Linked DNA regions of Homo sapiens: regions 2 and 3 are each linked to region 1. Evidence: fine-mapped expression QTL. A gene starts in region 1. Each other region holds a variant in brackets. All regions are shown on one strand. Distances are from middle to middle.

Region 1 (8,186 bases):
AATTCCACTAAATACAAAGTTCGTTTCTGAAGTGGAATTAGTGGATACTGATTGAAATAGCAGTGCTTCAGCTCTAAGGATATCAGCAACAGTGATAAAACTTGGCCTTAAAGAAACTTACGTAACTAACTAGAGTTTGTTACTATTGGAAGGGAAGAGTCACCTGGAAAATTCAGAGTTAAAACTTGTTTGAGATCTCTACTAAAAATACAACAAATTAGCTGGGCATGGTGGTGCGTGCCTATAATCCCAGCTACTCGGGAGGCTGAGATGGGAGAATCACTTGAACCCAGGAGGCGGAGGTTGCAGTTAGCCAAGATTGCGCCATTGCACTCCAGCCTGGGTGACAGAGCAAGACTCCGTCTCGAGAAAAAAAAAAACAAAAAAAAACTTGTTTAAACTGATCCCAACTTTTCAGAAATGTAATCCCTTATAAATCCCTGAAGTCCAAAATGTTTTACACTACAACTGTGTAAAATACTGGTCAGGGAGAACTTTTTCCTTTTACCTCATGTTGTAAACTAAATGGCTGAATAAAAATATATCCACTGGGGGGCGGCGTGGAAAGACATCTGTGATAATTTAATGAATGTGTGAATACAAGCTGAGGTAAAGGAAGTGAATTCAAATGGAGTACTCAATAAAAACTCAGCATCCTGAAGGAGACATCTGTTGCCTTTCTCTGACCAGCATCCCTTTCCCCTCTATTAAAAATAGAAAGTTGTTTGAGGCCAACCTGGCCAACATGGTGAAACCCCATCTCTTCTAAAAATACAAAAATTAGCCAGGTGTGGTGACACACTTCTGTAATCCCAGCTACCCTGGAGGCTGAGGCATGAGAATCGCTTGAATCTGGGAGGTGGAAGTTGCAGTGAGATGGCACCACTGCACTCCAGCCTGGGTGACAGAGTGAGACTCTGTTTCAAAAAAAAAAGAAAAAAGAAAAGAAAAAGAAAGTAGTAGTTTGTGCAACTACCTCTGGCTCATTTCTTGTGGTCTGTAGGACTGTGAATCAAGGTGCTCACATTCTACCTGCAAGCTAACCTCCAGAAAGAATGTGAATTTTGATAGGAGGGACAGAAGACTAAAAGCGATGGGAATTGATAAGTATAATGGCAATGCCCTAGAAGAGACTGTTCAATCATGAGTTGTACTCTAATTTAGAGTCCCTGAATTCTGTCCTGATGGACTTACCTTTCTAAAGGTGTGTGGTGAAATCTGCCTCAGTACTGTAAGCAATTTGACATTTTTTTCATTTGCTATTTCAAAAAAAATTAGAGCTAGAGCTGATTTTTGTGGCGTGCAATCAAAGGGGTTTAGTGTATGCACTTTCTTCCTGTTTCAACTTCTAACCACAGCCTTAGGAATGGGAAGGTTCTAACTGAACATCATCTGCAGGAAGCATGGGTGATAGCACATCCCCAGGGCCTCTCACAATGCTGGTTTCAGTGTAGCTGATTTTAGGGAAAGCAGAGGTAAATCAGTCAGAATGAGAGAACAAAGAGGAGGGCTGCCTGTTCACAAAGAAACAACCCCGTCATACCACTCTTAACAATGAACACTAAAACAGATCATGACAGACACCACTTTAAGTGAGTCTTGGTATGCCCCTATTTCATGACAAACACCTGCTATTTCCAATTTCACTCACCAAGAAAAATCTCATTTGTCCCTAGAAGTTATGTGTAAGGCTTCTGAGCTGAAAACAAAAGCAAACGGGGAGGTTTGTTACTGTGACTTTCTGGATTAGGTAACTAAGAGGACAAAAGCTATCTGACCCCTGTCTGCATTAAAGTTCCCTGTCCACTTTGTCTCTCTCTCTTTTTTTTACTCCACCCCCGAACCCACTTTCTTCCTTTGTTCTTTAATAACAAATATTTCAAGCCTCTGGAAAGCCATGAATTCTGCCTTTGATATCCAGGCACTAGAGAGAGTCCTTAAAGAACCCGAGATTTTATAATAGGAAAATTTATAACCCACAATTTAAAAAAAGAAGTTTTGCATAACAAAATTCCAGGAAGTATGTGTTATTGACAACCTCAAATACAGCACAGACAAGGAATCTTTTAAAAAGTCTACCAAACTTGATAAAAAGTTTCTCTTATCAAAAGCACATTTATATGAAGGGAAGAAGGCAGTGAGCAGATAGGAAGTATAGGTTTGGAAGAGAAAAGGAGACATGGAAAAGTAGCTGGAAAAATCAAGCAACAATTTTTTTTTTTTTTTTTTTGAGACAGAGTTTCGCTCTTGTTGCCCAGGCTGGAGTGCAATGGCGTGATCTCAGCTCACCGCAACCTCCGCCTCCTGAGTTCAAGCGATTCTCCTGTCTCAGCCTCCCAAGTAGCTGAGATTACAGGCATGTGCTACCTTGCCCGGCTAATTTTGTATTTTTAGTAGAGACAGGGTTTCTCCACGTTGGTCAGGCTGGTCTCAAATTCCTGACCTCAGGTGATCTGCTCGCCTCAGCCTCCCAAAGTGCTGGGATTACAGGTGTGAGCCACCACACCCAGCCAATTTCTTTTTGCTTTTAAGCTAGGGAAGATCTGGACAGTTTGGAGGCAGAAGGGAAAGAGTTGCTGGAGGGGAAAAGGACAGGCAGGACTGGCTTCATGGGCATGTGACCTATGCAGTCAGCCACCCCAGGACCCTGCATTTGGTTTAATGCTCTGCTGGTTCTGAAAGGTATAAACCACTATGTGGTAGGCTGATTAATGACCCTCTATTTATAAATCCTCATCCTAATCTCTGGAACCTGTGAATATGTTATCCTATATGGCAAAAGGGACTGTGCAGATGTGATCAAGTTGAGGATTTTGAGATAGGATGGTCTGTAACCAATGTAATCACAAGGGTCCTTATACAAGAGAGACAGAAGAGTTAGGGTCACAAGAGAAGGCATGTGACGAGGGAAGCAGAGAGAGTGAAGGAGATGTGAAGTCATGAGGTAAGGAATGCAGGTGGCCTCTGGAAGCTGGAAAAGGTAAGGAAACACATTGTCCCTGAGAGCCTCCAAAAGGAACACAGCCCTACAGGTCCATTTTGGACACCTGATCTCCAGTACTATAAGGTAATGAATTTCTTTTGTTGTATGCAACTAAATGTGTGATAGTTTCTTACAGCATCAATGAGAAACTAATACACGCTACATAAACACAAGGGAGATGTATTACTCGTTTTGTAGAAATCAAAGGCATTAATAAAACTAATAGCAGTTACCATTTATTGAGTGCTTCCTAGGTGCTAGGCACTATACTCAGCTCTTTCTGTATCTAATCTTATGTAGCCCTAGAACAAGATATGAGGTGGGAATTAAGGCCCAATAACTAGCTAGAATGTTTTAGAGTTGGGATCTGCGCCCAATCTATGTCACTCTAAGTTTTTTTTTGTTTTACCCCATCCCCATATTTCATCATAAGCCTTTGGGTTTGTCTTCATTCTTTAGCATGCGTTATACTCGCACGTGTCAACCTAGGAGTCGGGCTGGGGCGGGGCAGGAGATGACATCCACATCTAGGGTGCATGAAATTAAAAAAGAGCCGAAGCCATCTCTACAAGTCACAGGTAGCTTACATAGGCACCCACAGCAGATGTGAGGCTACAGAAAAATGAATGAGACAAAGAATACGCTTCAGACCGAAAGTCAAAGATCCCGCACCGTCCGTTCCTAACTCGCCCGCGTACTGGGTGAATCCTAGAGCCTGGCGTCTGCGAGGACTCCAGGAGCGACAGCAGGGACCGACGCAGAGAGGTCCTCAGCCTGGTTTCCCGGAGAAGAGGTCGCCCCGCTTCCCCCGCCCGCACCCCCCGGTGTTTTGGAGGCCCGCGTGGTCCCGCCTCATTGGCCGCCGCGGAGCCCGAGGCCTCGGGGAGGCGGGGCGGCCTTCGCAGTTGTAGTTCCCGAGTCCTCTCGTTCAGCGGCTCCGCCTTCCTGCCGCGGCGCCTAGGCGACCGCCCAGGACCACAACTCCCACAAGGCCCCGCGCTTGGGGGCGTGGCCGAGGAGCCAAGCGAGCCGGGGGCGGGGCCGCCTGGGGGATGAAGTGGGGGCGCTCGCCTTTCCTGCCTCACTCGCAGCTGCCGGGTGTTGGGGAAAGAGTCGCCTGCCTCCGGACTGGAGTGCAGACCTCTGACCCTGGAGTCGCTCGGCCGCTGGGAACCGTCCCCTTGGGTCGTCGCCTGGGCCGCCCGTCGTTCCCCGGCCCCGAGGGGTCCGGCTGGCCGCGGTGTGGGTAGAGGTCAGCATGAGCCAAGGGGTCCGCCGGGCAGGCGCTGGGCAGGGGGTAGCGGCCGCGGTGCAGCTGCTGGTCACCCTGAGCTTCCTGCGGAGCGTCGTCGAGGCGCAGGTAAGCCCGAGTGATAGCGGGCCGGGAACCCCCGGCCGAACACCCGCGGCCGCTACACACGGGCCGCGGCTGTGACGCGGGGAGGGCCGGGCAGGGCCGGGCCAGAAAAGAGGTGATTTCTGGCGAGCAGAAAACCCGGGGAGCAGAGACCTGACCGTCCAGTGCGGGAAACATCTGCGAACCGCCCGCAGGGTGGGGGGACGGCGACACTCCGGGTAATGGCAGTCAAAAGAGGAAGATGGTGACGGTCCCCCTGAGCTGTTTTCGTTTTTTCCTCTCGGATGTGTTAAGCGGCTGGGAGTGTGGCGGGAGATGGGACGGGCATGAACCACCTCGGCTGTCTTGCGAAGGGAGCGAGCGCCCAGAGAAACGGTGACGTCCTTCCCTTCAGGAGTTAGTGAGGGAGGGAGACTGAGAGTTGGGGGCACTCCGCAGACCCCCGAGGCCCCGCCAGGCGCAGGGGATTGGGAGGGGGCAAGACTTCACTCGAACTGTCGGACTAGAGCTTTCTGGGCTTTTACTCTTCCTCGAGCACCTTCCCTTGCTCAAGATTGCTTTATTTTTACCCAGCTGAGCTGTGTCTGCCAAGTGGCATCGCCAGGTAAGTCCCAATACGAGACTGGGGGGGTCTGAGTGGGGCGTTGTGGCTCGTGGATGGAGGCTCTGGCTCTGGCAGTCGTGAGGTGCTGGCTGGTTGTTGATGTGAAGCGATGATTACAAGTGTTCTCAGTGTGCTAGAAATCTGAGGCTTAGCTGACCAGATCCTTTCGCCTTCAGAGAGGTGTTTGCTTCTATTCAGTAGAATTTGAATTGATTGCCAGGTGCTGCTGCTTGTTGTCTGCACCTGCTGCAAGGAGGCAGCACTGCTGAGGGCCAAAAAAATAAAACGAAGGTCTCAGGTGGCCTGATGATGAGGGGAGATGTCATTTGAAGCAATTAGTGCTCATCCAAGAAAAATTGAAGGTGACTCTGAGTGTAACCGTGAAAACATGTTTTTCTGAATTGAGTCACTTTATTTCATGGTTTTATGGTGCCCTGCACTAAATCCCAGAGTGCCTGAATAGTCCGTTTGTGTCTGTGTTTGAACCATAAAAATAAAAGGGGCAAATTTTTGGTATTGGGGAACATGTTAAAATGCAGATTCTCTGGCCCTACCTCCACATGTATTGATTGGATCTGGAATATGGCCCAGATATCAGCATTTTAAACAAACATTGCAAGTACAGTATAACTGTAGCAAAGTTATCTTTTGACTACCTCTTGGACCTCACTTGGAAAACACTGAGATGGAATAGATAGTGGTAATCTGGGCAGACTTACTAAAGTAAATTTTCCAAATTGTCTTTGGCAAAATTATTTTCTAGTCACTAGTTGAGTGTTTCTGAGTGAAATTTACAATTCGATATTTTTCTGAAATGAGAGTTCCCATTTTCTCTTTTTATATAGCACATATTAATTTATGCTTATCTGTCTAGAAACTTCATTTTAAATTTTTTTCATTTACCACTAATTATGTGTAATTAATGTTTTATAATTTCACCTGTATTTTTAAAATTCTTGTGTAGAGATGGGGACTATGTTATTAGGCTGATCTTCAACTCCTGGCCTCCAGCGAGCCTCTTACTTTGGCTTCCCAGGTGCTGGGATTACAGGTGTGAGCCACTGTACCTGGCCTGCCCCTGTACTTTTAATTTCATTATATCCAAATGAATATAAATATAGTCCAACAGTTAAAGATTTGTGAATATTTGAAGTAGCATTGTGCCAAACAGTCTTCCAAGTGAATATATTTGGTTTTTGTTGCCAGCAGTACTTACTTTCTTTTTTTTTTTTTTTTTGAGATAGTGTCTCACTCTGTTGGCCAGGCTGGATGCAATGGCATGTGTTGGCTCACTGCAACCTCTGCCTCACAGGTTCAAGCAATTCTGTCTGCCTCAGCTTCCCAAGTAGCTGGGATTACAGGTGCTTGCCACCGCGCCTGGCTAATTTTTGTGTGTGTGTTTTTTTTTTTTTTCCCAGTAGACAGGGTTTTGCCATGTTGGCCGAGCTGGTCTTGAACTCCTGACCTAAGGTGATCCGCCTGCCTCGGCCTCCCAAAGTGCTGGGATTACAGGCGTGAGCCACCGCGCCCAGGCCGCCAGCAGTACTTTCTACTGTGCTGTTTTTTTTTTTTTTTTGAGATGGAGTCTCGCTCTGTGTCACCCAGACTGGAGTGCGGTGGCGCCATCTTGGCTCAGTGCAGCCTCCACCTCCTGGGTTCAAGTGATTCTTCTGTCTCAGCCTCCCGAGTAACTGGGACTATAGGTGTGTGCCACCACACACGGCTAATTTTGTATTTTTTAGTAGAGATGAGGTTTCACCATGTTGGCCAGGCTGGTCTCGAACTCCTGACCATAGGTAATCCACCCGCCTTGGCCTCCCAAAGTGCTGGGATTACAGGCGTGAGCCACCGTGCCTGGCCTGATCATCTTTTAGATAGTACTTTAATCTATAACATGGTTACACGTACAATCTCTCCGAAGTGGGACCATTGAGGTAATTGAAGTTCAAAGAACTTAAATGTCTTAATTGAATGAGTGACTTTACAGTGGAGCCCTAATGTGGAACCCTTTCTGGTCTATACAGTATGTTGGTATTTTCAGTTCTCTCTAGTATAGAAAAAGAGATGGAAAATAGGAAAATCAAAAAGTGGAATTCAGCCAGTTCTTTGACTTCATCCATATAATAAATTGGTAGAAAACTGATAAAGGGAAGAATTAGAATTTTTGAAAACTACCTCTGTTCACAAGAAATCAAAGTCATTAAAGGAGATACATATTTTAAATGTTATCCCCTTCCAAAATAAAAGCAGAAAAATATTTTTGAACACACAAAATGATACGTGTTTGTATATCTCATGCCCCATTATCGTATAAATGAAATGTAAATATACTTTGGTGAAGCACTGGAAACTAAAGGCATAGTGCATACAAGTGATATAACAATCTTCCTTTAAAAAGTAATTTCAATTAGATATATGTAAGTTTTTCTAAATGCATTTCTGAGGTGGCATAAAATTGAGTAATACACAGAGCCCCTCAATATATGAAAAGCCAGAAACTTAGAACTTAAATAGTGCTATACCAGTCCGTTACTCTGAGGGCTTCTCCTAAACCCTAAAGATCTTGAGCTGCTTTAGCAGTTGCATGGAGTGGAGTGGGCAAGAAATAACCCCGTGTCTGCCCAGTGAGAGGAAACTAATAGGAGCCTCCACCATAATTCATTTCTCGTTTACCCTTATATTGAGGATGTAGCTGTTTGGAGCCTGGACTTCAAACAATTACATCCTCAGTATAAGGGTAAACGAGAAATGAAACCCATTCTAAGTAAAGGGAATAAAAGAAACTTGCTGGGAGAAGCAGGGAAGAAACTTTTGAGAATTTGTAACCATGAGACAGTCCTCACACAGGTTCGCAAGCCAAATATTTATTCTGGGAAAATTCATAGCAGTCCCAAATTTGTGTGCCCTGGGTTTCCAATAAAAGCAAATATCCATCACCTCTGGAGGAATTTATTTTCAACTCAAACCTCGAAAAATTATTGAAGATGAAGTGCCAAGGAGAATAAACAGCTAGCAGTAAAATATCACAAAACACCCAAGGAAACAGGGCACCATGAATCAGATATTAGACAACAGAAACAAACACATAATGACCTTAGGTTCTGAAATTATCAGATAATTTAATATCACTATGTTTAATGTGTTCAAATAAAAAGAAACTTGAAGTATAGAAGGGAAAAAAGATTTTAAAGAGTGGCCAAAAAGATTTTAATAATAATGAATTAGAAGTTCTAGAACTGAAA
Region 2 (8,186 bases), 64 kb after region 1:
ATTAATTTCCATTAATGTCAGTATTTTATGTACCATGTTATAGTATACAAGTATCAAGTATTTTTCTTTACTGTTGAAAAACACAACTCGGGTTGGGTATGGTGGCTTACACCGTAATCCCAGCACTTTGGGAGGTCGAGGTGGGCAGATCATTTGAGGCCAGGAGTTCAAGACCAGCCTGGACAACATGGCGAAACCCCGTCTCTACTAAAAATACAAAAATTAGCTGGGCATGGCGGCATGCGCCTATAATCTAAGCTACTTGGGAGGCTGAGGAGACAGGAGAATCCCTTGAACCTGGGAGGTGGAGGTTGCACTAAGCCGAGATGGCACCACTGCACTCCAGCCTGGGCGACAAAGCAAAACTCCTTCTCAAACAAACAAAAAACACAACTGATTTATTAATAAGCATCAAAACTTACTTATCGTTTAGCCAAATGCGGTTCAATTTTAAAAGTCTAATTAGACTGAAAATATTTTCTGCTTGCTAGGAGGAATTCCGATTACATTTCAAGAATATCTCCCGTATAATGGACTGTGTTGGATGTGACAAATGCAGATTATGGGGAAAATTACAGGTATATGTGTTGTCTTCTCTTTTGAAGCCATTACTAACCTTTATTTTTTCCACTGAGTCCAAGCTTTTTATTAAAATGTCCTCATTGTTCATTGAATTAGAATTTAGGAATAGGCAGATCCAAGGTGTTTTTTCTGTTGATGAAAAAATTAAAGTATATGTGTTACATGTATGTGAAAGGATGTTTCTCATATTATTCTTTAGTGATTTTAGTTTTATTGTGTCTATGTTTCTATTGATACAATACCAGATTCATTTGTGAAGTTGGTGGTCATTACGAACCGAGTATATCCGTATTTTACATATGTATATAGAAAGGTAAAATGTAATTACATAAAAAGATTGAAATATGAAGTCTTGGTCATTGAATTTGTATAAATGAGCAAAAGAAGGTCACTTAGTCAAAACAGGAAAGCTCCGCAAGACAGGTCCATTACTCTGTGTAAGCCAGTGTCAAAAGGATTGTTGAATATTTTATCTCTTTCTAACAAAGATGGTAACTTATAGAAAATTAAGAGACAAAATTATTACAGTGGAGGCTATACTGAAATAAAATGTCTTTTTCTATAGTGCTAATAATTGAGAAATTATTAAGTGTGGGTATCAATAATCTCTGAGTTTTGAATTGCTAAAAGCTGTAAAAAGTCCTTTATGGTTACAAATTGAACATTGTAATCCTAATATGGTATTTTCAAGGTTAAAAAAGTCATTTTAATAATTTGGAATAGTATGATATGTATTCAATAAGTGTTAAGACTATTCAGGTTTCCTTAACTGCTCAGATGTGTTTATTATATGCATAACCTGTGAGAAAGTAGAAACTGTAGTAATATTTTTGTGAAAAGCTCAGTTCATATGAATTTCCTAACTGGCATAACAGTGGCTATATATTCCTTTAAGCCTTTTTACTAGTTATTATTATTTAAAGTTAATTATGAGTTTATTGCTATTTTCTTTAGACTCAGGGTTTAGGAACTGCCCTGAAGATATTATTCTCTGAAAAAGAAATCCAAAAGCTTCCAGAGAATAGTCCATCTAAAGGCTTCCAACTCACCCGACAGGAAATAGTTGCTCTTTTAAATGCTTTTGGAAGGTAAGAACCATTATATGTTGAAGATTTTTGATTTCCCATTGGGTTTCAACAAACTGCAAAGATAATCTTCTTTGCTAAAAGTAGGGTTTGTTTTGTTGACAAAAAAAAATTTTATATTGTATCTGTACTAACTTAGAGAGGCCTTAATGCTGACAAGTCAGTTTCTCTACAGGTCATAGGAAAAACTAAGTTTCCAATTGCCAGTGTTTTTCAGTTTGCTGCCTTAATTTTGTAAGGGAGATATTCTTCTAATATTCTTTTTGCTTGGCTATAACTTGTTCAACTACAATAGCAGGAGTAAGGAATGTGTGATTGAGAAGGTGATAAAAGAAAATTAAAACCTTCATCTGCTCCTTATTTTTCTTAAATTTTCATTACTATTTTTTTCTTTTCTCACCTTTTTCCTGCACTATGCTCTTTATTTCTGAAGCTCAGAGGTCATTTTTCTTTCACTCATTTCTACATGATTTACTTCTGTATAGAGACATATAATTTGCTTGCTTGTTTATATCACCAGTGGTTTAAAAAATAATTTGAATTTGCCAGCAGAGATACATGTAATGCCAACTGAGGAATACAGAACAGAAGGAAAAGAATCACAGAAAATAATACTATGCTTCCTTGGGGAAAAAGAGAAAAAAGTCAACTTGAGGAAGAATTAAAAAAAAAAAAATAGGGGACTAAGTAATACAAAGATTATTTCTTGGTTTTCTTAACATGTGTTTTAAGTTAAAAAGAAGCAGTTAAATTAAAAACAGATTTATTATATGTCCCCTGCTTTTTTTTTTTTTTTTTTTTTTTTTAAAAGAGATGAGGGTCTCGCTCTGTCATCCAGGCTGGAATGCAGTGGCACAATCATGGCTCACTGCAGCATCCAAATCCTGGGGTCAGGCGTTCCTTCCACTTGAGCTTCCCAAGTAGCTGGGACTACGGACACATGCTATTTTGCCTGGCTAATTAAAAAATTTTTTTTGTAGAGATGGGGGTCTCACTTTGTTGTCCAGTCTGGTCTCAAACACCTGGCTTCAAGTGATTCTCCTGTCTTGGCCTCCCAAAGTGCTGGGATTACAGGCATGAGCCACTGTACCTGGCCATTTCCCATCTTAATAACAAGGATTTCAGCTGTTGCTTCCCTGTATTTAAAGATGACTATGTAGGTTGAGATTTCAGACACAGGATAGATATAGACTATCCATTAACTGGTATTTCATAAAAAATTCAGTCCATCCACTTATGAGGCCTGTAGAAAGATAACACAGGAGATACTGAATGAAATTTAAATAAATTGAAATGAAAAATATTGTAAATAACTTAAGCATCTCTTAAGTCCAAATTAAATTGAGAAAGATGAAAACAATTGAGAATTTCAAAACAATTGAAAATTTCCTTCGATCTCATAAAAAATATTCACAAATGCAGCCTTTCTTGTTTTAGTTCTATATCTAGAGCTTATTACCTTTTATTGTTCCCTAGAGTAATGGACTCAGAATCAGGGGTCCTAAAGTTCTGGAATCCTGGCCTGCCCTTTAGTAGTGGTATGAACTCAGGCAAATCACTGCTTTCCTAGTTTGTTTCCTGATAATGAGATCATATATGTGATGGGCTTAGAACATTGCCTGTCCTCCTAAGTGATTAAGGAATAATTTTTCTTCTATCAAATAGTTAAAGATTTTTCTTCTATCACCCCTGAATTGTACATAGGGATACTTGAGCTTTTAGAATTACTTTTTTATATTTCCCATCCCAGAGTTTTACTTTTTGGCCTGGGCTGAGAAGCACTTCATTTAGTCAGTCAGTAATCATTTACTGAATACTATAAGCATCAATGGGTATGGGGCACAGGAGAGAGACTCAGCAGGAGATGAAATAGAGTCTTTACCCTTAGGGAGCTAACAACATAAGACAAATTAGTGTGTTTGGGGAACATTGAGTAAAGAGCAATCATTTGAAGAGGAATGTGCAAAATAAATTTATTAGACCAATTGTAAATGATTTGAGATTCTTTATTAAGAATTATTCATATCACTGTTCCCATTATTAATCTAATGTCTGTAGATAGTATGAAGTAACAGGCTTCCTTTGCCCCTTCTAAACCAGTCTTAATGAGAACACTAATTTAAACATGGAAGCTTCAGTGTTTGAGGTTTTTTATTTTAGGTTTTGCTTTCAAATTATAGCTTATGTAACAATATCAATAATTTGAAACAGTATGCAACATGTTAGCCTTACTAATAAGCTTTTTCTTTCTTCCATAGGCTTTCTACAAGTATAAGAGACTTACAGAATTTTAAAGTCTTATTACAACACAGTAGGTAATAAAGGCTTTTATGTGTCTAACTAGAGACATAAAGTGACTGTGGAAAGCCTTTTAATTATGGACATTCATCAGAAAGACACTAATCTGACTTCAAGAATTCTGAACTATTAAATAGAAAATTTAAATGCTCACTTGAATATTTATGATTCTTAATAGATTATTATCAACTAGAGATATTTATAAATGAAGTATATACTTTTAAAACATGTAAGTTATACTAATTTTGTGTTTAATTTCATATGTTTTCATGTAATGAAAATTCTATTTTTTTTAGAATTGGTTTTGTTTTTATTCTATTATCCTTTATTTCCAGTTGTCAAACTTTAAATGGCTATGTCTGCATTCTAATAACACTGTTCAGTCTGTTATGGAAAAGGAGAACTAGGGAACAAATGTTGCTCAGGGCTGGTGTCAGTGAGAAAAATTTATCAATGCTTTTTAATGTGTTTTTACCCTTGCCTCACTGTGTGTGTGTCACTTTCTATAATATAAAGAAATACTATAATATTTCTAGAATCTGGAACTGTCACCATGATGAATGGCCCTTTCAATGCATAGTTACAGAAATTCCTGAAGATTCCCCAGGACTTCAATTTCATTGGTTTTTATTTGCAGTTTTTAGTTGCTGTAATTGTTGCTGTTTCCAGTCTAAAGGACCTCCTTTGGTAAAGGTGAACAAGACCTCTCCCCTATGCTACCCAGCCAGATTTTGTGTGTGTAATGGGCTGGCCCAAGAGTGTTCTTTTACTTAGAACTCCTTTTGATTTTGCTTTTCTCTGCCCCTAGAAATTTTAGGGACAAAGACATTTTGGAAATTGTCAGTTACTTTTAGAAAGAAAACACTGCAGAAATATTTAACAGATTACTTCTTGATAAAATTTAAATGGGATTATATGAATTTATAATGCCAATT[G/A]AAAATATTATATACACAAAATTTGCTATTTTCACTTAAAGTAAGCATTTTTAAAGGATTTATTTTAGAATACAATCTATGCAATCCTCGAACTCAGTGTGCTTTTCCCTGACAGGATATATAAAAAGGTAGATTAGGTCAACCCTCCTTTAAGCTTACTCTCCCCTCACCTTTTCTTTTCACTGTATATAAACGGTACTTTCTGTGATTCATACCAACAGAGGACTTTCTGTGATTCATACCAACAGTCCTAAACTGTCATTTTCTAAATCTGGGATTTAAAATCTTTAGACAATATTTAAAATCTTGATTTTTTTTAAATGTCAGCAGATACAATTTGGAAGATTGCATCTGTGTAGAAGTAATGCAGGTACAAGATCTAGAGTTTTTCCTTAGACTCTTTAGTCTTTTCTGAATTAAAGAATAAGTGCTCTTAAATCCATATTTTATCCTGTCAAAGTCTGAAATGTGTTCATTGATGATTTGGTGACATCTAAAAAATTGTATTTAGTTGGCTTGGCTCACCCCTCTTAAAAATACTTAGCCATCTCTTGGTGGGATGTGGTGGGGGTATTAAGGTCTCAGAGTTATTTATTTTCTCACCTAATTTCAAACCTTTATAAACTTGGGGTTTTGTTGTTGATGGTGGTAGTATTTTTTGTTAAGTTGTTTAAAAGGCTGACTTGATTGGAGCCTCCTCTACTTTTTCTTGAGGGTTGCAAGTATTGTATGGTGGGGGAGGGGGGCCTTAAGGCAAACTGTCTAAAAAGTGACTATCCAATTAATTTAACTAGTAAATTAGTAAGAATTATTCTTAGTATTCACTCAGAGTTTAAGATGTGAAAAATCTGCACTTTGTTTATCACTCTAAATGTAAAGAACTTTTTGATAGTGTTATTTCACCACTCCCTCAGTTAAAGGCTATTATTTAAACTGTTTACTGGAGAAAATCCTCGCTCATGTCCATTTATTGTTTTTTTCTGTACTGTGATTTGTTTCAAGCTTAGGAAAACTAGTATATTAGAGTATGTTCTAGGAAATTAAAAGATCTGGTTAGAGTAAAAAGTTCTTTTTAAGGTTCTTAACTAATTTTTTCACAACTAAGAAAATAAATGAAGTATTCTTAGGCTGAAATTCATCTTATTTTATCATAAATTAGATTGTAGGGGCAGCCTACATTTTTGTGTATGTGTTTTTATTTCTTAAATGATTGTGTGAGCCTGGTGACATTTTATGGTTCTTGTGATCTAAACTGTTTTTCCAATTCACATCTTTTGTCGTGAAGTGATATTATACTAGAGTACTGTTTGCATTGTAAAAATGCTTTGCTGGTGCTCTGGCATTTTGTCTTTATCTCATCACCTAATTTAAAAACCCAGCACTTGATAATATAACTGACAGAAATGATTGTACCCACTGATGAAGTAATGAAAATGAAGAAAAGGAAAATATTCCTTCCTTCAATGGCGTAAGTTTATTTTTTACTTAAGTGGCATCTATGTAAGTTAGACAAACTATATATTAAAATTGGTAAACTTTGAATGTTTCTCCTGTTTTGATTCTTAGATTATGAGGAGGATCAGACAGAATAAGACTCCACACTTTTGAAATTTGATAAGTCAAAACGTTTTATTTTGACATTTTTAACATTGTGAATTATTCGATATTTGTAATCTCTGTATGTATATGAAACTCTGCCATGTTTTTCAACTTTGCCTATGTGCCACTGTATATAAGAAAGGACAGCTATTTTGATCTTCATCAGCATTGCCTTCAGCTGAAAATTTGGGAACAGTTCACAGTAAACCTCTCAGTAGTTTGCAAACTGAGGTACCTGCAGAAACCATAGCTACTCACCAAAATACACAGATTAGGTGCATGGTATCGTGGAAATTATTTGGTAAAAAAACACACACACAAATCTATGTGTACTGTATTTTAAGGAATATCTACAGGTGCAGCTTTGATTTTGAACAGAATTCCAAATAATTTACTGTTGTACCCACCAGAATCTAGAAAATGTGAATTAAAGTACATGTTTCTGCAATCTTTTCTGTCTTGTTTTTCCCCGCTATTTTAAGTGTTTCTTTTTATGGCATGAGAATTTGATTGTAACCTGTGGAGAAGGGAGAAAATGTATTTATAAGTAGTCTGAGGTTGTTTCTTATCATAATGGCAAGCATTGGCTGGCATTGTATTAAGGGCTTTTACATGCATAGTTTGGCTTTAAAAGAATACACCGTTAATCTTCACAATAGCACTAGTAGGTAGGTACAATTACTTCTCTGTTTTATAAGTAAGAAGACTGAGGATAAAAAAGGCTAAGTAACCTGTCCATAGTCACAAATTCTAGGTTGTGGAGCAAGAATTTGAGACGAGAAAGACTGATTCTAGAACCTTTGTGACATTTTGTAAGTTGGCCTATTTCCATTCAGCTACAAAGTGGGAACAATTAAAAGCATTGTTTGATTTGTATTGAATCATAAAGCTTATAAAATATGCTTATCTTATTTAATTTTTTGAATAGGTAATACATTCACATGGTTAAAAGAAACAAACAATATAAAAAGTTATTCAGTGAATGTGTTCCTGTGTCCTTGGCCCAGCTTCCTCCACTGCACACTCATCTCCCACCATGAATAGCCTGTGCTCTTGGTTTCTTAGGTTTCCATTCACACTGTTGTAGACAGGTACAAACATATACAAATGGAAAGTCTTATTTTTTCTCTCATTTTTACTCAAAAATTGACATCATATACATACGACTTCATTTTTTTCACCTAGTATTTCTTGGCAGTCTTCACATATGACTAGATAGTTTTCTCATTTTTTGAAGTAGATACTTGGTATTCTGTTATGTGAATGTGCCAGTGTTGAATTAACCCGTCCTCTATTAATGGGCAGCTGGGTTGTTTCCAGACCTTGTACATATGTCATTTCACATTTATATAAATATTGTACCTGTAGAATAAATTCCCAAAGATAAGAATTTTGGGGGCAAAGACTGTGTGCATTTATAATTTTGAAAGATATTGGCATATTGTCCTTCATAGGGGTAGTCATCAATTCACATACCATCTAAAATTTATGATAGTACTTGCTAACCTGCAACATTACCAATGTAGATGTTATTAAAATGTTGGATTCTGGCCATTCTGGTAGATGAAAATTTATATCAATGTGTACATTCTTTTATTTTCCTTAAAAAAGAGACAGGGTCCCACGTTATCACCCAGGCTGGAGTGCAGTGGTATGATCATAGTTCACCGTAGCCTCAAACTCGTGG
Region 3 (8,186 bases), 32 kb after region 1:
TGCATGAGAGAATTCTCATTAATAAGATAACATTAGGAGGCTGGAAGACATTCAAGTAGTTCTAAATGCTTTCTCTGTCACCCAGTCTGGAGTGCAATGGCATGATCTAGCTCATTGCTGTCATTTTAAATTCTGAACCTTATAGGTGCCACGAGGATAGGAAGTATTCCTTCTTATTCACCACCATGTCACTGGTGCCCAACACAATGACACTTTGAGAGCACCCCATAACTATAATATGAGTTTACTAACTTTGTTCTTTCTTTCAAGGTTAATCTGAAGCGACCTTGTCCTTTCTGGGCAGAAGATGGCCACTGTTCAATAAAAGACTGTCATGTGGAGCCCTGTCCAGAGGTATAATAAATAAAATAACAGGGCAAAGCCAATTTTCTCTTGGACTTTTAGAAAAGCATAACCTCTATTTTATTTCAGGCTAATGTCAATGGATTTGGATGTGTCAGCAAATTCATATGCTCTCAGCTCTCTCCTTTAGAACCAGATTATTGAAGATTCTATACTTGACACCAAAATGGGTTTGAAGACACTTGTATCCAGTGATACTGGTGATCAAATATGGAAATATAGTCTTATTCTAAAATGGAAGGAAAATCAGAGGCCTGTTCTAGGATTGGATCTGCAGTTGTCTTTTATTTCATGCTTTATTGAATCAGCATCTTGTTTCATAGGAAAAAAAAAACAAAATAAAAACAAGCTACTGGACCCTATATTTCAAATTTATAGTGATTTAATTGGGGAAATTTCAGGCTTAGAATTAGATTTTCACTTGGCCTTGTTACATTTACATTTAAAAAAAAACCTATACTTAATACCAAGAGAATGCTACATTTTAGACTTTGATTTTTGTTATCTAACATAATTAATTATATTCCTCTTCTTCAACAGTAATTAGTTGTAAGCTTTGTTTTCCTTTCACTTTCTGCTTTTCTTACCTAATCAGTTAGTCTAGTTTGTTGTCCTTAAAAATCTGTACCAATGTCCTTCCTAAAGGGAACATTCTTTAAAAATTTATAATATTCAGTTTCCTTTAAGAATAAAATATGTATTAAGTATTTCGTTTAAAGTTCTGTTTGATAAACTGGTTGTAATAATTCAGATACATTTATTAAAGCCTAACACTAATTATTGGCCTTGTGAAAAAGAATGTTCCAGCTACATGCACTTCTCCCATTGGTAAACCCTAGATTAGATTGGTAAACTCTAGGTTAATCGTGTGGGCCAAAAAAAGCTTTCTAGTAATCCAAAATTGCCTACACTTTGTTAGAGCAGAAGTTAAAATTGCACATAATACATTGCAAATAATTTTGAACTTTCAAAACTTTCTTTTCTATGGTAACAAAGTTTGTGGAAGGAAGTGATTGTCAGTGTTTTCAACCTAAATTATATAAACTATAAAAAATACTGCAATAGTTATTAGAGCTGCTTTTGGCTTTCTTACTTTGTGTATGTCATTCAGTTTTCTATACTTTGATTTATAAGTCTGTATATTGGGATAACACTTTTACTTTATGAGATAGTGTGAAAACACAATTTGAGTGAGTGTATATTTGCCCCTCATAGAGTAAAATGCTTGATGAAATAGAGCAATGCATTGACAATTCGTGAAGAAATTCCAAAAAAAATAAAGATCACTTAAAAATTTTTTTGCTTTTCTTGTTTTTTTAAGAGTAAAATTCCGGTTGGAATAAAAGCTGGGCATTCTAATAAGGTAAGTCCCTCCTCTTCCTTGAGTGTTTCTGCTTTACATTGTGAAACTTACCATTTACTGACTGACAGTGGCTGTAGTAAAGAACCATATTATGGTTAGTTGGGAATGGAGACATTTTGCCTCAGAATTCCAAATCCCTAACTCTTGCGTCAAGCAGATAGATTGTACATTTCTAGATTCTTTTGAAATTGCTTCAGTACTGTTTTTGGAATCTCTGGAACAACTATTAAATGTAACTATAGTGTCAGATCCCCTAGTCAGCAGGTGTTTTATCACATAGCTATTTTTAGTCTTCTGTTTCAACTAGTTAGCCTGGCAGGTTCAGAATTATATTGTATAGAGTAAATAATTATCAAGATATTTTGAGCAGAGTACTTTCAGATGGTATTAAGATATTCATTTTTAATTATTGTTCTTGTCCTTTTATGAGAGTATTATATTTTGCCATTGATATGTTTTTAGAGAACCGTTTATTTCCTGTTTTTCACTACTGCGCATCCATAATAAAGATCATCATACCCTCTCTCTCTGTCTCCTTCTTGTGCCTCCTTTGCGTTTTCTTCTTGCTCTCTCTCCCGTGTAATCTTTTGTTTTTACTTTATTGTATTTATTTTTGCTTCAGATCTGAAATAAATAAAACCATATAAAAGCAGTTGAAACCCCCTCAGCCATTTCCCAGTTCGTTCTAATTCCTTCCTCCCAGAGCTAACCATTTTTCTGAAGTATCCTGTGATTTTATATTCTTATTGCAGGTGTATCTACAAGTAATATATTTTACACTTTTATTGCATGTGTATCCACAAGTAATATGTAATTTATTGTGTGTAAATTTTTTTTAATTTAAATAATATTAATAATATTTTTCTATTTCTTTAGGTTACAAACTTTTTTTCAGTTTGTGCTTTTACTCAGTCTTACACTTTTGAAATTTTCTCTGTTGGTATATGTGGATTTTGCTCATCATCTTAATAGCTGTAGTCAGTTGTATGACTATAACACATATTAGCCATTCCTCTATTGATGGACATTTCAGTTGTTCCCAATTTTTGGCTATTTCAAACAGTAATGCACTAGCATTTTTGTCCTTTGTCTCATTGTGCACACATGTAAGAGTTTCTCTAGGTCTACCTGTAAAGGCAGGATTGCTGAACCATAAGGCATGCCTATCTCAACATTAGAAATAATACCAAATAATTTTCCAAGGCAGTTGTACCTTTTTAAAAAAATGGTTGCCCTGGGATGTGGTCTCACTAGTGGGACTGCAGGTTCAAAGGTTTAAGCATTTTGCAAACGTGTGTGTGTATGTGTGTGTGTGTATATATATGTACGTATGTATATATATATGTGTGTGTATATATAACTTTTATATAAAAACCCTCTTTAGAACTAAATTTGACCATATATATATATATGTTTGCACACACACGTTTGATATATATATATATATATATATATATATATATATATATATATATATGGTCAAATTTACTTCCCAAGAGGGTTGTTTTTTCAGTTGATATCACCAACACATCAGTGCTAATTGTTAACTTTTACTTTTGAATTTTTATTTATTTTTTTGAGACAGAGTCTTGCTCTGTCATGCAGGCTGGAGTGCAGTGGCGTGATCTCAGCTCACTTCAACCTCTACCTCCCAGGTTCAAGCAATTCTCCTGCCTCAGCCTCTCCCGAGTAGCTGGGATTACAGGCGTGTGCCACCACACTTGGATAATTTTTGTATTTTTAGTAGAGACGGGGTTTCACCATGTTGACCAGGCTGGTCTTGAACTCCTGACCTCAAGTGATCCGCCCGCCTTGGCCTCCCAAAGTGCTGATTACAGACGTGAGCCACTGCACCCAGCCTAATTGTTAAATTTTAATATGTTGTTGATGGAAATAATATTTAGTTGGTGGAAATTTCTGCCTCATTTTCATTTGTATTTCTTACATATGATAGGGATTTTTATAATGGAATGTATGTATATTTAGTGTATATCATTGTTGACAGATTGATTATTCTGCCAATAGAAACTGAAATAAAGAATAAGGTAATAATTTTTACTAAACTTACGAACTTCTTTGCAGTACTTGAAAATGGCAAACAATACCAAAGAATTAGAAG[A/T]TTGTGAGCAAGCTAATAAACTGGGAGCAATTAACAGCACATTAAGGCAAGTTTTATTTTGGTAATATTAAGAAAATATTCTCATTGATATCAAGAATCAATTTTTTATGATTTTGGTAAAACATTTTCGAACCCATTAAAGTTTTAACTAATATATTTTTAAAAGGAAGAAAAAGTTTTTCTTTATCCTAAATTTCATAATAGCTTTGCCTCTTCTTGGCTGATTTATCCTTAAATTTCTAGAATGTATCATCCATAGTAAATCTTTTAAAAAGTAGAAATTTACAAGATTGTTCAGCTAACAGGGTTTATGGATCAATTTTTCCTGATTACTATGGAAGAAGGGGCTTGAACTCCTAAATCTTTTTAAATAGTGATTGAGTCTGGATGTTACATTTTGAATGATAAAAGTTATTAGCCTGTTAAATTTCGTAGATTTTTTTTCTGTTAACTTTTCCTTATTTGTTCTACACAGAAACCAGCATAAACAATATATAAATGGCCTCAAATTGTGTAGTATAAAATGACTAGACATAATCAGTAGTTGGGAATGAGATATTTCAGAAATTCCTTTACATTCCCATTTGATTAGGTTTGTATTTATGAGCCGGGCATGGTGGCTCATGCCTGTAATCCCAGCACTTTGGGAGGCTGAAGTGGGCAGATCACCTGAGGCCAGGAGTTTAGGACTAGCCTGGCCAACATGGTGAAACCCCATCTCTACTAAAAATACAAAAATTAGCCGGGTGTGGTGGCGGGTGCCTATAATCCCAGCTACCTGAGAGGCTGAGGCAGGAGAATTGCTTGAACCTGGGAGGCGGAGGTTGCAGTGAGCTGAGATCACACCGTTGCACTCTAACCTGGGTGACAAGAGTGAGACTCTGTCTCAAAAAAAAAAAAAAAAAGATTTGTATTTATGTACCATAATTGCTAATGACTCAGTATAAGTTAGCAATTTTATTTATTGAAGACAAAATTTAATATAGGAAAATAAAAGATAATAAACACCCACATACATATCCTCCATTTCAAATAAATAATCCTCCATTCCAAGTAAATAAATATTAACATTTTTTGCCATATGTTTTAAGGAACAAGAAACATCACAGATAAATTTAAAATCCCTTATGCTGTATTCCCTAATCCAGTAGAGGTAACTACTATCAAGAATTAGTTGGTGTATATCCAGTCTGTTTTTGTTTTTATATATTTATATGTATAAATAAGATAGTTTTATTTTGTGTATATGGTTTTATTTTTCCTTTGTATAAATGATATCCTATATTTAACATTCTGCTACATTTTTCATTGTACATTTTGCTTTCTAGATCTGTCCATGTTGAAACACAGATTTATTCTTTTAACTGATGAATGATTTTCATCATATAAATATCCCATATTTTACTTAGCTATTCACTTATTGATGGATGTTTAGCTATTTCCAATTATTTACTTTTACAAACATGCCACCTTGAGCATTCCCAAATTTTTTTTCACATTAGAAGTAGAATTGTTGAATCTTAGGATTGTCTTTTTAATACCCATTCTTGATATTGCCTGATGACATTCCATAGTACTTGGTGTGAATATATACTGACTCCAGTGCTGACAGCTTGTATCATTCTCTACATCCTTACCAAAAGTTGATAATGTTTGTTGAGTGTGAAATAGTACCTTGTTTTTATTTTATACTTCGTAATTACTAGTGGATTTGAGCATTTTTTATTTATTGGACATTTGAGTTTCTTATTCATTCAACAAATGAATGTCTACAATGTGCCAAGCACTGTTCTAGGGTACTAGGAATCCAGTAGCGTAATGGATAAAATTTCCGCCCTCGTGCAACTTGATCCTTGTCAGAGGAAATAACACAATAAACAAGTAAAATATATGAGAAATAAGTAAGTAAAATGATGATGAATGCTAGGGAAGACAGGCAGGGAAGAACAAAGAGGGCTAGGAGTGAGAGAGTGGCACTGTTTTAAATTGGGTGGTCAGAGAAGATAATACAACATTTGAACAAATTGCCGAAGAAGGTGAAGGCATGAGTCTTACTATGGTTGGCTGGGGGATGAGCATTCCAGGTATATATAAATGTTAGTTGAAAACCCCCATGGCAGGATCATGCCTAGACTTAAACACAATAAGACCAATGTAACTGCAGCACAGTCATCAAGGGCAAAGTAGCAGAAGACAAGGTCAAAAGATGCTAGGGATGGGGCAGGAGGTGGGGTGGGTAGAGATCTTGTAGAGCCTTGAAAGCAATTATAATGAGTGTTTGCTCTTAGACTGGGTGGAATAAAACTCACAGGGAGGTTTTGAACAGAGGAGTTAAGGGCATGTGTTGAGGGAGCCTGATATGTTGCAGAAGCCTTATTACGTGATTATCGTAGTAATCCAAATAAGACATTATGGTGATTTAAACCAGGGTGATAGCAGTGGAAATGATGAGAAGCGGTCAGGTTCTGGATGTATTTTGAAGATAAAGCTAACAGGATTTGCTGCAGTATTGGATATGTGGTATTGAGAAGATATGAGCTTTTGGATGACTACAAGATTTGGAATTATAAAAATGGAGTTGCCATTTACTGACCTGTGGACAGCTGGAGGAGGAGCAAGTCTGAGACAAAGTTATAGTCAAATTTGGATTTGTTAAGTTTGAGCTGCCTGTGAGACATCCACTTGGAGATTTCAGGTAGGCAGTTGGATATACAAATCTGAAATAGGGGAGAGGTCTGGATGTCAGTCAATGAATAGATGGTGTTTAGCAGCCATAAACCTAAATGAGATCACCAAGGAGAGAGTGTAAATAGAGGAATGATCTAGGGACTAGGCTTAAGTCATTGGAAGATTTTGGGGTAAATTGCCAGTTTATATTCTTTGTCATTTTTTTCTCCATTGGGTTGGATTTTAAAATTATTACTGATTTGTAAGCATTCTTTATATAATGTGATAATTCTTTGTTGGCTGTGTTGTTAGGATTTGTCCTTTAATTTTGCATATAGTTTTTTGTTGTTGAACAGAAATTATTCTTTAAACTTAAAAAATTTAAGTATAATACACATATGGTGGAATAGAAAATTCTTAAGTGTAAAGGTCAATGTAACTTTACAAAGTGAACCCAACTCTATAGCCACCATCCAGAGCATTATACTTGCTGTCCAGATTACCATGTGTACTTTCCTAGTCATTATCACCTTCCAAAGTTAACCGTGATTTTGAGATACTGACAGAGATTAGTTTTAACTGTTTATAAATAGAATGATATAGAACATATTCTGTTGTATCTGGCTTCTTTTTGTTAACATGTGTCTGAGATTCATTCATGTTTTTGGGCATAGTAATGTTTAATTCTTTTTTATTGGCACATAGTATTCTATAGTAAGAATGTGCCATGTTTCCATTCTGCTCTTGATAGCTTATGCTTTGGGGCCATTTCAGAAATATTTTGGTGGATACAGTTGGACATGGTGGCTCATGCCTGTAATCCCAGTACTTTGGGAGGCCAAGGGAGGAGGATTGGTTGAAGCCAGGAGTTCAAAATCAGCCTGGCCAACAAGTGAGATCCTGTCTCTACAAAAAATTAAAAAAAAAAATAGCCAGGTGCAGTGGCATGAGCCTATAGTCCCAGTTACTTGAGTGGCTGAGGCAGGAGGATCACTTTGAGTTCATGAGTTTGAGACTGCAATGAGCTATGATTGTGCCACTGTACTCCCCAGCCTGAGTGACAAAGTGAGACACTATCTGTGAAAAAATAAAAAAAAAATTTGGTACATACATATGTATATTTTTATGGAGAATATACCTAGAAATGAGATTAGGTACTGCCAAATTGTTTTCTAAAATTGCTACCAAATTATATTGCTACTAGTAGTGTATCAGTTATCTGTTCTACAACTTCTCCAGTGATTGGTACTATGATTTTTAAACAGCTTTACTTTGAGGTATAATGAAATATGATACACTGCATATAAAGTATACAGTTTGATGTTTTGACATGTGTCCACCCATATAACATCATCACAATTAAGATACCATAGGTTGGGTGTTGTGTCTCATGCCTGTAATCCTAGCACTTTGGGAGGCCGAGGCAGGGGGATCATGTGAGGCCAGGAGTTCAAGACCAACCTGGCCAACATGGTGAAAATACTACTTAAATACTACTAAAAATAAAAAAATTAGCCAGGCGTGGTGGCAGACGCCTGTAATCCCAGCTACTCAGGAGGGTGAGGCAGGAGAATCACTTGAACCCAGGAGGTGGAGGTTGCGGTGAGCCAAGATCGTGCCACTACACTCCAGCCTGGGTGACAGAGTAAAACTGTGTCTCAAAAAAAAAAAAAA

The links. PIP is the estimated chance that this variant, and not a neighbour inherited with it, causes the effect. A credible set is the group of variants that fine-mapping cannot tell apart.
Region 2: its variant is the best candidate, but not a certain one, in a credible set for the expression of ERO1B in monocytes after LPS (Fairfax 2014, PIP 0.64).
Region 3: its variant is the best candidate, but not a certain one, in a credible set for the expression of ERO1B in whole blood (TOPMed, PIP 0.85).

The regions. Positions count from the first base shown.
Region 1 is chr1:236,277,839-236,286,024 of GRCh38, reverse strand. It overlaps ERO1B (endoplasmic reticulum oxidoreductase 1 beta), which reads left to right and starts at 4,067. Exons shown (of 16, transcript NM_019891.4): 1 at 4,067-4,343. The coding sequence starts at 4,242. It also overlaps the pseudogene LOC100130485. RefSeq lists enhancers at 1,739-1,888, 4,473-4,672 and silencers at 3,723-4,312, 4,353-4,402.
Region 2 is chr1:236,214,316-236,222,501 of GRCh38, reverse strand. ERO1B (endoplasmic reticulum oxidoreductase 1 beta) reads left to right here. Exons shown (of 16, transcript NM_019891.4): 14 at 492-578; 15 at 1,537-1,670; 16 at 3,926-7,401. The coding sequence ends at 3,986. It overlaps LOC124904561 (a long non-coding RNA gene), which reads right to left and starts at 1,540. Exons shown (of 2, transcript XR_007066961.1): 1 at 617-1,540. The variant G/A (reference allele first, on the strand shown) is at 4,901.
Region 3 is chr1:236,245,590-236,253,775 of GRCh38, reverse strand. It overlaps ERO1B (endoplasmic reticulum oxidoreductase 1 beta), which reads left to right. Exons shown (of 16, transcript NM_019891.4): 3 at 271-354; 4 at 1,685-1,726; 5 at 3,809-3,891. LOC124904562 (a long non-coding RNA gene) reads right to left here and starts at 7,940. Exons shown (of 2, transcript XR_007066962.1): 1 at 6,439-7,940; 2 at 2,109-2,350. The variant A/T (reference allele first, on the strand shown) is at 3,846.